4 linked regions of the Homo sapiens genome follow. The protein of the gene in region 3 purifies or fractionates together with the protein of the main gene of each other region. This does not show direct contact. Each region holds a gene or a part of one and is shown on either strand. Other genes may lie near its edges.

Evidence for each region.
Region 1: the proteins of PRELID2 (region 3) and WDR62 purify together in Homo sapiens (affinity purification with mass spectrometry; one large-scale study listed by BioGRID and IntAct). This does not show direct contact.
Region 2: the proteins of PRELID2 (region 3) and MLF1 purify together in Homo sapiens (affinity purification with mass spectrometry; one large-scale study listed by BioGRID and IntAct). This does not show direct contact.
Region 4: the proteins of PRELID2 (region 3) and KIF11 purify together in Homo sapiens (affinity purification with mass spectrometry; one large-scale study listed by BioGRID and IntAct). This does not show direct contact.

The regions. Positions count from the first base shown.
Region 1 is NC_000019.10:36,089,397-36,092,967, reverse strand, and holds part of WDR62 (WD repeat-containing protein 62), read right to left. Parts: intron 2,524-3,571; coding exon 2,448-2,523; intron 1,769-2,447; coding exon 1,657-1,768; intron 1,567-1,656; coding exon 1,503-1,566; intron 280-1,502; coding exon 157-279; intron 1-156. UniProt on the Homo sapiens protein: Required for cerebral cortical development. Plays a role in neuronal proliferation and migration.
Region 2 is NC_000003.12:158,574,127-158,577,697, forward strand, and holds part of MLF1 (myeloid leukemia factor 1), read left to right. Parts: intron 1-3,571. UniProt on the Homo sapiens protein: Involved in lineage commitment of primary hemopoietic progenitors by restricting erythroid formation and enhancing myeloid formation.
Region 3 is NC_000005.10:145,759,090-145,762,409, forward strand, and holds part of PRELID2 (PRELI domain-containing protein 2), read right to left. Parts: intron 1,437-3,320; 3' UTR 1-1,436.
Region 4 is NC_000010.11:92,599,580-92,603,150, forward strand, and holds part of KIF11 (kinesin-like protein KIF11), read left to right. Parts: intron 1-3,571. UniProt on the Homo sapiens protein: Motor protein required for establishing a bipolar spindle and thus contributing to chromosome congression during mitosis. Required in non-mitotic cells for transport of secretory proteins from the Golgi complex to the cell surface.

The sequences.
Region 1 (3,571 bases), on a different chromosome or scaffold from region 3:
TAACTGCATATTCAAAGTCTGTCTCCCCTACTCAGCTGTGAGTGTGCTAAGGGCAGGGCCTAGGGCTGTCTTGGCCACCACTGTGTCCCCAGCATCACTCCATGGGGCCCTGGCAGGGACTCATCCCTCTGGTGGACAGGCAGGGGCTGCCAGGACCTGGGGTGGCCACTCCGCTTCTTGTCATTTGTGTGCTGCTGCTGCTGCCGGTGGTCAATCTCCAGCAAGTGCTGCTTCATGCAGTTGGTGATCTCCGGGCCCAGGTGCCAGATGAACACGCAGCTGCGGAGGTCAAAGAGAGACACACAAGGCAGAGGAAGAGTAAGCATGGGAGCCGCTGCCGTGGCTGACCCTGAAGCCACCCACACCACAGCCTGGACCCCATTCTCCAGATGCTCCTGGAAAACACACCCCTATCCGCTTAGTGCAGGGGTGCTGGACTTGCCACATCCACACCCTGGGCCCAGGTCTGGGGCATCCCAGCAAACCAGGGCCTGTTCTGGAGGCCTCAAGACCTGAGGAAGGGGGCTGTGGGGAAGAACTGGGGTAAATCAAAGGGAGTGACAAAAGGGACTTCCTTGAGTACCACCCATGTGCTAAAGAATGTATGTATATCATCTCATTCATTTCTCACCATACAATTTTCTTTTTTTTTTTTTTTTGAGAGAGTCTTGCTCTGTCACCCAGGCTAGGGTGCAGTGACGCGATCTCAGCTCACTGCAACTTCTACCTCCCAGGTTCAGGTCATTCTCATGCCTCAGCCTCCCAAGTAGCTGGGACTACAGGCGCCTGCCACCACGCACAGCTAATTTTTGTATTTTTAGTAGAGACACAGTTTCTCCATGTTGACCAGGCTGGTCTTGAACTCCTGACCTCAGATGATCCATCCACCTAGGCCTCCCAAAGTGCTGGGATCACAGGCGTGAGCCACTGCGCCCGGCCTCATCACACCATTTTTAAGGTAAATGTAAACGGTGGTGTCTTTTACAGGGGAGCAAACTGAGGCTCAGGGGAAATAACCTGCTCAAGGTGACAAGAAAATAAATGGCAGAGCTGGGATATGTTTTTTTAGTGTTTTGTTTTTTTTTTGAGACGGGGTCTTGCTCTGTCACCAAGGCTGGAATGCACTGGCATGATCTGTGCTCCCTGCAACCTCTACCTACCAGGTTCAAGCCATCTTCCCCCTCCTGAGTAGCTGGGACTAGAGGTGTACATGACCACACCCGGCTAATTTTTTGTAGAGATAGGGTTTTGCTATGTTGCCCAGGCTGGTCTCGAACTCCTGAGCTCAAGTGATCCACCCGCCTCAGCGTCCCAAAGTGCTGGGGTTACAGGCGTGAGCCATCATGCCCAGCTTAGAGCTGGTATTTGAACTCAGGGCTGGGTGTGACACCAAGACTCCCACAATCCAAACTGGGCAGTTTAGAAATGCTCTCTACACAGGCAGGCTGAGTGCAGTGCTCATGGTATCTGAGCCACAACTCTCCCAAAGGTCCATGTCCCACCTGTCTCCAGATACTGTGATCAAGTGATGACAGTCATAGGTGAACTTCATGCTGGTAATAATTTCTGCAAACAAAGCAGAGAGGCTGCACTTGCCTTCGGAGTCAGAGGGTGTGGGCGGGTGGGGAGGCATCCCAAGCAGAGAGGCACACCCACCTGAATGGCCAAACATCTTGGCAATGCACTCGCCCGAGTAAAAGTCAATCACTGAGATGCTTTTGTCAGAGCAGCTGGTGGCCAGGAAGGTGCCTGAGGGGTCCACATGGACCTGCCAGGAAAGGGACCCACATGTCACTCCAGCTGCCTGCTTCTTCCTTATGATGAGGCCTGGGCCCCTCCCTCCCCCGTGCTGCATGCACAGCACATGGGACTCTGGCAGGGCAGGAGCTCCCGCTCCCATTCGACACGTGAAGAAATTAACAACCACCGCAGCAGTAACAACAGTAGCCAGGCCCTGTGCTAAGCACTGAACATGTGCAAACTGAACTCCTCCAGAGAACAAGTCTATGAGACAAGCTGTCTGTGTGCATTTCAAGAGATGATGCTTGCCCAAGGTCACACAGTCAGCCTGAGGCAGAACCTGAACCCATAACTGTCCTAGACCAGAGGCTCTGAGAAGGTCCCCCCTTGTCCTGAGTGACCCGTGGCTGGTGTGGGCAAACCAGGAGGGGAGTTCATGCCTCTGATTCTTCCCACCATACCCTGCTGCCACTCAAAATGGAACCCACTTAGACGCCCCACTTGGGGAAGGGCTCTGTAAATAAAGGAAACACAGCTGGGGTCACCCTCCCCACCCTCTCGCAAGCATCCTTGTTTAACCAGGCCTGAGAAGGTGCTGGGCAGCGCGGTGCACTGAGGAAGGACCAAGGGCACAGGTCTCAGGTGTGGGCCGTCACAATAGGTGGCCCATCAGGGCAGCAGACAGACAGGGGTCTCCAACTCCTCACCTTCAGCAAGGACCCTTCGTCACCCTGGGAGCCCTTGTAGCACTTCTTCTGCTTCCCGTTCACAGTGTTGTAGACTCTGGGGAAGTAGGGGCATGTTGCGGCCAACAGGGCCCCGCCTACCCCACCACCTCATTCTCTGGCTCTTGCTGTCCTCCCCTCCCCTGGAAGCCCCCTGCTACCTCTTGTCCCCATCTGATGCCTAGACTGAAACTGAAACCCCATCTCAAGCTGAGGTTGTCCTGGGGTATCCACTGAGTTAATGTTCATCTCCCCCACACACTGCAAGCTCAGTGCTTGGCACCGCATGAGAAAGAACTGGGAAGGGGTGCAGAGCCTCTTTGCACTGCTTTGCCCTCTGCACACTCACTCTCTGCCTCCCCCTGGCTCGCTCCTCCACATCCTCCCCAGGCTAAGGTGTCTCTTCCTCCAGGAAGTCCTGCTTGATCCGCAGGTGGGGTCAGGTGTCTCCACAGGGCCCCTGGGCTCCCCCATCTCTGACCACTCTGTCACTGTCTGTGGCTGTGAGGTGGCCGTGTCCATTCTACTGGACTGTGAGCTCCATGAAGGAGGGCCTGGGGCTATCCTGGCCACTGCCATGATCCCAGCACCATCCAGCCCAGTTAGGTGCTCAGGGAATACGGGTGAATGAGGGAGTTTATGTGCCACATCAGCACCTTAGTCATCCCACACCGGCTCTAGGGAGAGCCAGAAGAAAGCCCTCTGCTGACCTGGAGGCCAGGCTTGGGAGAGCCCAGCTTCTAAGAAATACCTGCTGGTGGCCGGGCACGGTGGCTCACGCCTGTAATCCCAGCACTTTGGGAGGCTGAGGTGGGCAATATCACCTGAGGTCAGGAGTTCGAGACCAGCCTGGCCAACATGGCGAAACCTCGTCTCTACTAAAAATACAAAAAATTAGCTAGGCATGGTGGCAGGCGCCTGTAATTCCAGCTACTTGGGAGGCTGAGGCAGGAGAATCACTTGAACCCAGGAGGTGGAGGTTGCAGTGAGCTAAAATGGTGCCACTGCACTCTAGCATGGGCAACAGAGCAAGACTCTGCCTCAAAAACAAAAACAAAAAAAAACCAAGAAGGAACACCTGCTGGGTCCCTCAATTCCTTCCCAGC
Region 2 (3,571 bases), on a different chromosome or scaffold from region 3:
TTAAATATGTTAGTACTAATTTAAAGCAAAATAACATTAATAAAAAGATAATGAACAGTGGGAAATGAAATGGTTAATATAGAAAAATAAAATGATTAAAATTTTTTTCTGAAGATTATTTATTAAGGCATACATGAACTCAGGCAAATTTATTATGCCATTTTAGTTAACGTGTTTAGGAGCTGTTGGGATATGGACAGTGTTATTTTAACAGGTTTAAATTTTTGTATTATTGTGATTCTCTCTTTTGAAAGCCAGAGGCGAGGCTTGGTGGCTCACGCTTGTAATTCCAGCACTTTGGGAGGCCGAGGTGGGTGGATCACCAGAGGTCAGGAGTTGGAGACCAGCCTGACCAACATGGTGAAACCCCATCTGTACTAAAAAAAAAAAAAAAAAAAAAATACAAAATTAGCCAGGCATGGTGACACACACCTATACTCCCAACTACTTGGGAGGCTGAGACAGGAGAATCACTTGAACCCAGGAGGTGGAGGTTGCAGTGAGCCGAGATTGCGCCATTGCACTCCAACCTGGGCAACAAGAGTGAAACACTGTCTCAAAAAAAAAAAAAAAAAAGAATATTTAGCCAGAGAATATTATTTTGTAAAATCCATAATTTTATTATTTTGTATTACATAAGCTCTGGCTTTCAAGAGAATCACAGTACTACAAATCCATAGATTATTGAGGTGTTGAAGTCATTCATATGTAAATATGACATCATACAATTGGTAACAGCTAAGAAGATTATGATAGACAATTTTCGAGTTGTATTATATCCTTGATTATACCAAAAGTTGTTTTATATCCTTCATTGTTAAGGATTCCATCCTTAACTGTGAATGTGTAATGAGTATAATATGTTCTTTAAAATGTCTAGCAGAAGTGTAATTTAAACTCTTGAGTGATTCTGAGCAGAGGCAATGAATTCAAGAGTCAGGGTCAGAAATAGTAACAGACTACAAATAGTAAGCATACAGAAGAACTCTTCCTCTGTGCTTAGGGTGAAAAGGACCATCAGTTACTCTTTCAGTTATCACTATCTATAGCCTTTTTCAAATGCAAGGAGCCATATCATAAAAATTGAAGGTAAAATTGTTGCAGTTAACTTTTTTTAAGCCTAATCTCCTTTATTCATCACAAAGCTTTTGCATAGACCTTTTAAATATACAAAATAGTGGCCAGAACTCTGCTTACAGACTACCATCTTTCATTACCACCATATTACAGTTAATTTTATAAAATTGATTCACACTTAACAATTTCTTTTCTCCACAATGAATTATATTTAACACACTTTTGGGGATAAGGGAGAAAAAGAATATGAGTTTATGTTTATTTCGGGTAATCTATTTGACCCACCCGTTTTACCTCAACCCCCAAACAAAATGAGTATCCATTTCTTAAGTTAAACATAAAGAATTCATAAAGGTGACAAACTCCTTAATGAATCATCCACTGACCTTAGGAACATAGAGATGTGAAACACATAGCTCATGCCCACTCTCTTTTATATAAATATTATCCCTGTTGCTAACATTGTGGTGGGTGGGTCATAGAGTCAGTAAATGTTGTTTAATGGTGAGTTGGTGTCCTTTATTCTCTTTCTTGTAGTCAATCTGGTATTTAGTTGATTGCTGAAAGTAATTATCATTTGCATTCAACAAATAACATTGTTGATACTGGTATTTTCTAATTAGAACATTACGATTTTCTAAATAGTCCATTAGAGTTGCTTATATTGTTCACAATCAAGGTTATTCAATATAAGCAAACGCTACTGATTTACTAATTATTCAAAAATGGACAAAAATGTATACTTCTTTGATATAAAAATAGAATTACTAGATACTACGATGCTGATAAGGTGCTGTGGTTAAATTGTTAATTGCTTAAAATATTTAAGTAAAAAGTAATTAAAATCTGTAGTTTTGAATTCAAATATATTCAGTTTCAATGTTTACCTTATTATAACAGTGCATCTTAAATGTTTCTTCAGAAAAGTAAAAGGAAATGTTAAAAGTTATATTTTAAAATTTGGTGTTTTATTACATACTTGGGATTTTTAAACTTTGGTATCTCATTATGTCTCAGGGCTGAAGTTATTTCATTGAAAATTTACATTACAGTATATTCAGATATACCTTCTTAAACAATATCTGTTACTTGATTAAAAACACAAAGGTTAAAAGCTAGCACTTCCTGGCATGCAGTTCTCTCAAGAATACTATCTTTCTCTCACATCTGTATTTGCTAACAATATGCATATTGTTAAGTACATATGTATAGACAAGAGGATTTTGAGGTTAAATGGTTTTGGCATCCTGTACCCTAAAAAACATCGATTATGTAGTATGAAAGTTTATAAATATTTAGTACGACCCAGAATTTTCTATTTGATACGAAACAGGAACTGTGAATCTTCTGAGCTACAAAAATGTAATTCTGATCGAGCAAGTCTACAAAGAATAATAACTATGTTACCACTTACCAGCTATTGGAGATAGAAAGCTCAGAAGCAGGCTGGCAAACCTGTCAACCTTAATTTTTTTTTTTTTTTTTTTGAGACGGAGTCTGGCACTGTTGCCCAGGCTGGAGTGCAGTGGTGTGATCTCGCCTCACTGCAACCTCTGCCTCCCAGGTTCAAGTGATTCTCCTGCCTCAGCCTCCTGAGTAGCTGGGATTACAGGCGCACACCACCACACCCGGCTGATTTTTTGTATTTTTAGTAGATACCGGGTTTCACTATGTTGGCCAAACTGGTCTCGAACTCCTGATCTCGTGATATGCTGGCCTCAGCCTCCTAAAGTGCTGGGATACAGGCATGAGCCACCGCACCCAGCCAACCTTAATTTTTAATCATAAATTATTGTTGTCTCTTCTTTAAGCCTCTCAGCTCTCCATATGAGCATCATATATCTGATGACCAGTATTTGGTTAAAGTACTGCATATATTCACAGGATGTTACTTCTTCTATCTCCTTATATGTATAATCTCTATTTTAAAAATTTTTACAAATTTGTATTTATTTTATACTTGGAAGTAGTTGGATTTATTAAAGGACATTGCTTTGTCCTATCCACTGATGGAGTTCAAAGTGAATGTATTCTATGTACAAGATGTGGGTTAACTTTTTTATTGATGGAAAACATTCTCATTGAAGGAAATAAAACCACCTTGTTAAGCTTTTGGAAACAGTATTCAAGGTTACTACTTAAATACTTGTTTAGACGTACAGTCTGAGGTAGAGTCTCTGCCAAATTGTCATAGCTTGGCTCTAGTTAATATTCTGCCACATATACCTCTCATTCTAAACAGTTGATAAAAGTAGCTTGAGAATACTCAGCTAAAATTTAAGTTACTTATTTTCAAGGTCCCACTTTATTCTAAGACCCTGAATACCTACTGTGAAATTACCTAGTATAATTGTTCTTAGGAATATTTTAATATATAAATTTCTTATAAATGAACTTTGCAAATTATAAGATCATATTTGAAAGAATGAGACACTGTAAGCCTTGTGCTGAAAGGATTTCTAAGGTATACTATTCATTTGGGGCATTCTTTGGT
Region 3 (3,320 bases):
TCCTGAGTTCAAGCAATTCTCCTGCCTCAGACTCCCAAGTAGCTAGGATTACAGGCATGCGCCACCACGCCCAGCTAATTTTTTTGTATTTTTAGTAGAGACGGGGTTTCACCATATTGGCCAGGCTGGTCTCGAACTCCTGACCTTGTGATCCACCCGCCTCGGCCTCCCAAAGTACTGGGATTACAGGCATAAGCCACCACACCCTGCCCTGATTTTTATCTTAAGAAGATGAATTTCAAATTATTACCTCTCTTCAAGATTTTTTAGGTAGTATGTATTTATATTTTGGCTTCTGATCACGAGAAATGCAAACTACTGCCATCTAAGTTTCAAACAGTAGTACCACTTTACGTTACAGTTAAAAAGTACCTTTGCAAAATGTTTTACATAATAATGGCTTCCATTTCCTGGACTTCTACTATGTACTAGGCAGTGTGCTAGGTACTTCATAGGCATGATCTCAAATCAGTCCAACAATCTCACAAAATTAATTCTATCATCTTGTTTCACAAATTTTTTTAAATGAGATTCAGAAAGATTTAAAATTGTGTTCATGATCACTGAGCAAGTAGGTGCCAGCACTTGGATTCAAACCCAGGTCTGTCTGTTGACTTAAAACCCTGCACAAAATTACCTTCTTTAATCATCATAACGCATTGGCGGAAAGACCTGTGCCTGATTATCCCCATTTGCCCAATAAAAAACAGAGAGGTTAATGATTTGCTTGCTCACCATCACAGAACGAATTAGCAGAAAAGAAACTGCCTTCCCACTCTTCATTTCATTTTTTTTTTTCCAGAGGACCAAATCACAGTTTACATATTACATTCTAAAAGCTATACTTATGGCAGTTACATATTACTTATGGATAGGATAAAAATCTCCTGATTTCTGAGAATCTTAAACATTGTTATAAATACGGCTTAGCTTCAACATAGGTCTGGTACATTCCTGTTTGTTCCAGTCCACCCGTGAATCAGGTACCAGTTCAACTCCCTTATTGGTTCCAGAATCCCCTCACGAATCCTAGGAACAACGGTGCTGATAACATAAGGGCACAAGCACCCTCTCCAGGCCTTTATCCTGTCCTTAGCTGCCCTGACACCATCATCAGACAACCAGCAGAACACCCTGAGGAAGGGCACACATATCTTACATGGTTCTTTTTTCCTTTATTTGTAAAATTATAAAGAGATTGTGTCATAAAAATCCAGCAAGAAGGTCTTATCTCCCTGAGTCCCACTATTCGAAGCAGGCTCCCAGAGGAGGGTATCATTTTATGTCCTGGCAAGAAGGTCTTCTCTTCTTGAAGCTGCCAACACTGTATCCTCAAACCTGTATTCCAGAAACTGTGTCTGTGATGTGCTGTGGCCAAGAAGTGATTCTCAAAAAAAAAATAAATAAATAAATAAGTAGACATGGATACAGCTCTCCTGCAAGAGAAAGCAAACAGGCTTTATCACCTCATAAACATGTCTCACCAATCAATACTTATTTGCCCTCTTTTCTGAAGCAACTCTTCAGAGTCCACTTGAATTCTATCACTACGGATAATTCTTGAAATTGCATTTCTCCCTCCTAATGATCTTCGAACAAGGCAAGCACCTCATTTTATTAAGTCCAACTACCCAAAGGAGCTGGTTCAGAGAAGAGTTAAGATATAGCTAAAATTGAGGTCTTAATCATTCCAGTGTGATAGAACTCTGCTATGTTGTCAAATCTCACCAAGCCTGATCTCCCAACTGCCAGTGGCAAGAACAGACAGCTGTCAGGGTTATTTGTTTTATTCAAAAATGACAGGAAATCAAAAATCTATCAAAGGGATGTGTCAACAGCAATGCCACAAGCATATTGGTTAGTGAGATTTATGTGTCTCCATTTTGGCTCATGACAAAAATCACCTTCTAAGCTTTCTCATTTTCAAATGCCCACTTGGACATACAGGTCAGAGAGTTCTGTGAAGTATCTTTAATGTTAGGTACAGTGTAGAACGTAGTCACTTTCTATGTGAATTTAAATTATGCAAATTTAAAATGTGGTATGATATAAAAATATTAAATACTGTCTCCTTATGCAGATTTCTGCAAATCCCACAAAACGTCTTTTAAGTATTAAAAATTGCAAAATTCCAAAGCTGAAAAAATTGAGTAAATTATAAATAGCACCTACCCTCTAGCCTCATCACAGTGCCACTTTATGTGCCAAACTAAATGCCTATATGTCTACTCCATTGTGTACGCGCATTGGAACTTTATGAGCAATTTTAGTGACCACTGTTGCTGGTATTTTAACTTCCTGTTATTATCATTTTAATACCTTTTTATGTCTTAATATAAAATCAGCCAAGTCTTCACAAAGTGTTGACGTTAGAGCTAATGCAAGAAAAACAAACTGTCAAACTATAAACTTTAGGGGTAAGACGTGATCAAACACTATATTTTGAAAGGCCAAACAATCACCACAACACTCCTTGATGTTAATTTAGGACACTCAATCAGTAGGCAAAAATTTTCTTCAAGGACCAGACAGTAAATATTATAGGCTTTGTAGCTATAAGGTCACTGTTATAACTATTCAACTCTGCAGTTGTAGCTTTGAACATAGTTAGAAGCATAGTTGTGTTCCAATAAAACTTTGTGTATAAAAGCAGGCAGCCGGCTAAATTTGGTTTACAGGCTGTAGTTTCCTGACCTCTACTTTATTATAGCTATAGAGCTAATTTCCCCCACTTCTTTTAATGTAGCATTTTACAACACATGAAAACAGTAGTACCCCCACCTACAACCACCCCCTCCATTTTCCATACAGTTAATTCTGAGAAATTAAAAAGTTCCATTAACATAGGCATATTTCAAACTTGACAAACTTTGTAAAAACAGTCAAGAAAATGGGAGAAAAGGAAAGGAATAAGCTGGCAGCATTCGATGCAACATCAAATTGTAGATTTATGTGGTAAGAGTACATACATACATATACATATATCCCCTACTTTACAGTTACTCCTCTGAGAAAACTGGTCATGAATTTTGAGAGTTGGAATTATATAAATCTTTCAGGAAATTTCATTGCATTGAATGCATTAAATGCAACTGTCCTGTACTAAACTCCTGGTTATATTCAGACCTCGACCATTTCACTTAAGAGAGGAGAGTAAGTTGCTTTTCACAAACAATACGATGCCCTGAGTTCATGGCTTAGCCCTCAACCACAGGACAAAAACACAAACAAACAAACATAAAAAACACACCAGCCTGGGCAACATAGGGAGACTTCACCTCTATAAAAAAGGAAAAAATTAGCCAGGTGTGGTGGTGCAC
Region 4 (3,571 bases), on a different chromosome or scaffold from region 3:
ATCCAGCTACTTTGCTGAATTCACTTATTAGTTCTAACAGTTTTTTTTTGTGTGTGTGTAATTTTAGAGTTTTCTTTTCTTTTTTTTTTTTTGAGATGGAGTCTCGCTTTGTTGCCAGGCTGGAGTGCAGTGGCGCGATCTCGGCTCACTGCAACCTCTACCTCCCAGGTTCAAGCAATTCTCCTGCCTCAGCCTCCCGAGTAGCTGGGACTACAGGCACACGCTACGACGCCCAGCTAATTTTTGTATTTTTAGTAGAGACGGGGTTTCACCATGTTGGCCAGGATGGTCTCGATCTCTTGACCTCGTGATCCACCTGCCTCAGCCTCCCAAAGTTCTGGGATTACAGCCGTGAGCCACTGTGCCTGGCTTTTTTTTTTTTTTAATTAACTATTGAACTTCTGTTTATTATTATTATTATTATTTATTTATTTATTATTTTTTGAGATGAAATCTCGGTCTGTTGCCCAGGCGGGAGTGCAGTGGTGTGATCTCGGCTCACTGCAACCTCCGCCTCCCGGGTTCAAGCAATTCTGTGCCTCAGCCTCCGGAGTAGCTGGGATTATAGGCGCTCGCCACCATGCCCGGCCAATTTTTGTATTTTTAGTAGAGATAGGGTTTCATCATGTTGGTCAGGCTGGTCTTGAACTCCTGACCTCGTGATCCGCCCGCTTCGGCCTCCCAAAGTGTTGGGATTACAGGCGTGAGCCACTGCACTTGGCCTTATTTTTATTATTTTTTTCATCAACTTTTAAGTTCTGGGGTACATGTGCATGATGTGCAGGTTTATCACATAGGTAAACCTGTGCCATCACAGTTTGCTGCACAGATCAACCCATCACCTAGCTATTAAGCCCAGCATCCACTAGCTATTCTTCTTGATGCTCTAGCTCCTTTTGCCCCACTGAATTTTAGGGTTTTCTTTCTTTTCTATTTTTTTTTCTTTTGAGACAGACTCTCGCTCTGTCACCAGGCTGGAGTGCAGTGGCACAATCTTGGCTCATTGCAACCTCTGCCTCCTGGGTTCAAGCGATTCTCCTGCCTCAGCCTCCCGAGTAGCTGGGACTACAGGCATGCGCCCATGCCTAGCTAAGTTTTTGTAGTTTTAGTAGAGACAGGGTTTCACTATGTTGGCAAGGCTGGTCTCAAACTCCTGACCTCAAGTCCCCTTGGGGTTCCTGAAGTACTGGGATTATAGGTGTGAGCCACCACGCCCGGCCAGATTTTCTATATAAAAGATCATATAATCTGCAGACAGATAATTTTACTTTTTCCTTTTCTTTCTTTTTTTCTTTTTTTGAGATGGAGTCTCGCTCTGTCGCCCAGGCTGGAGCGCGGTGGCGCCATCTCTGCTTACTGTTACCTCTGCCTCCTGGGTTCAAGCAGTTCTCTGCCTCAGCCTCCCAAGTAGCTGGGATTACATGCACATGCCACCACGCCCAGCTAATTTTTGTATTTTTAGTAGAGATGGGAGTTCATCATCTTGGCTAGGCTGGTCTTGAACTCCTGACCTCGTGATCCATCCGCCTTGGCCTCCCAAAGTGCTGGGATTACAGGCATGAGCCACCGCTCTTGGCCCTCAACCTTTTCCTTTTCAATTTGGATGCCTTTTATTTTTATTTTTCTTCCTTTTTTTTTTGAGATGGAGTCTCGCTCTGTTGCCCAGGCTGGAATGCAGTGGTGCAATCTCTGCTCACTGCAACCTACGCCTCCTGGGTTCAAACGATTCTCCTGCCTCAGCCTTCCGAGTAGCTTGTACTACAGGCATGTGCCACCATAAACAGCTAATTTTTTTTTTTTCTCGTATTTTTAGTAGAGACGGGGTTTCGCCGTTTTAGCCAGGCTGGTCTCGATCTCCTGACCTCGCGATCCGCCTGCCTCAGCCTTCCAAAGTGCTGGGATTACAGGCGTGAGCCACCATGCCCGGCCCTTGTTTTTCTTTCTTGCCTAATTACTCTAGCTAGAACTTACAGTATTATGTCGAATGGAAGTGGCAAAAGTGGGCATTGGGCATCCTTGTCTTGCTCCTGTTCTTTTATTTGTTAGTTTGTTTGAGATCCTCCTGCCTCAGTTTCCTGAGTAGCTGGGACTATAGACACACTACTACACCCAGCTAATTAAAAAAATAATTTTTTTTTTTTTTTTAGAGATGGGGTCTCGCTATGTTTCCCATGCTGATCCTGAACTCCTGGCTTCGGGTGATCCTCTACTCTTACCCTCCCATAGTGCTGTGATTACAGGCATGAACCACTGTGCTGGCCCTGTTCTTGTTTTTAGAGGAACATTCTTCAGTCTTTGACCATCAATTATGTTTGCTGTGGGTTTTTCATATGTTGCTTTTATTTTGTTGAGGTAGTTTCACTCTATTCCTAGTTTGTTGAGCATTTTTATGACTAATGGGTTTTGAATTTTGTCACATGCTTTTCCTGCATCGATTGACATGATTCTGTGGTTTCCTTCATTCTGTTAATGTGGTATATTACATTGATCAATTTTTACATGTTGGACCATCCCTGTATTCCAGGAATAAATCCCACTTGGTCATGGTGTATAATCCTTGTGCTGCTCAGTTCAATGTGTTGGTATTTTGTTGAGGATTTTTTTTTATCAGTGTTCATAAGGGATAGTGATCTGTAGTTTTCTTGTAGTTGCCTTTGTCTGGCTTTGGTATCAGGGTAATGCTTGCCTCACAAAATGAGTTGGGAAGTGTTCTCTCCTTTGCCAGATTTTTTCTGGGAAAAGATTGAGAAGAACTGGTATTAGATCTTCTTGAAATGTTTTATAGAATTCACCTATGAAACTATCAGATCTAGGGCTTTTCTTTGTCAGGAGATTTTTGGTTAGTGAGTCCATCTCTTTACTGGTTATAGCTCCATTCAGAATTTCCATTTCTTTGTGATTTAGTCTTTGTAAGTATTGTGTTTCTAGGAATTTGTTCAGCTGGGTTATCCGATTTGTTGGCATACAATTGTTGAAAATACTCTTTCAACAATAAGAGAGAAGACACAAATAACTAGTTCTTTTGTTTCCAGTTCCTTAAGTTGTAAAGTTAGGGTGTTGATATGAGATCTTTCTTGCTTTTTAATGTAAGCATTCATAGCTATAAATTTCCCCCTTAGCACTGCTTTTGCTGTGTCCCGTAAGTTTTGGTATGTTGTATTTTCATTTTCATTAATCTCTAAAATTTTCTAATTTTCCTTGTGATGTCTTTGAACCCTGGTTACTTAAACACACACACACACACACGTGTGTGTGTGTGTGTGTGTGTGTGTGTGTGGTTTTTTGTTTGTTTTGAGACTGAGTTTCGCTCTTGTTGCCCAGGCTGGGGTGCAATGGCGCGATCTCGGCTCACTGCAACCTCTGCCTCCCGGTTCAAGCGATTCTCCTGTCTCAGCCTCCAGAGTAGCTGGGATTACAGGCGCCTGCCACCACGCCTGGCTAATTTCACACACACATTTAAAAAATACATCTACCTGCTTTTACTTCAGAATCTTTGCAATTTCTGTTCTCTCTGCCTGAAAATTTTTTCCACCAAAATATCTACAGGGCCTGGCTCCCTTGCTTTTTAGGT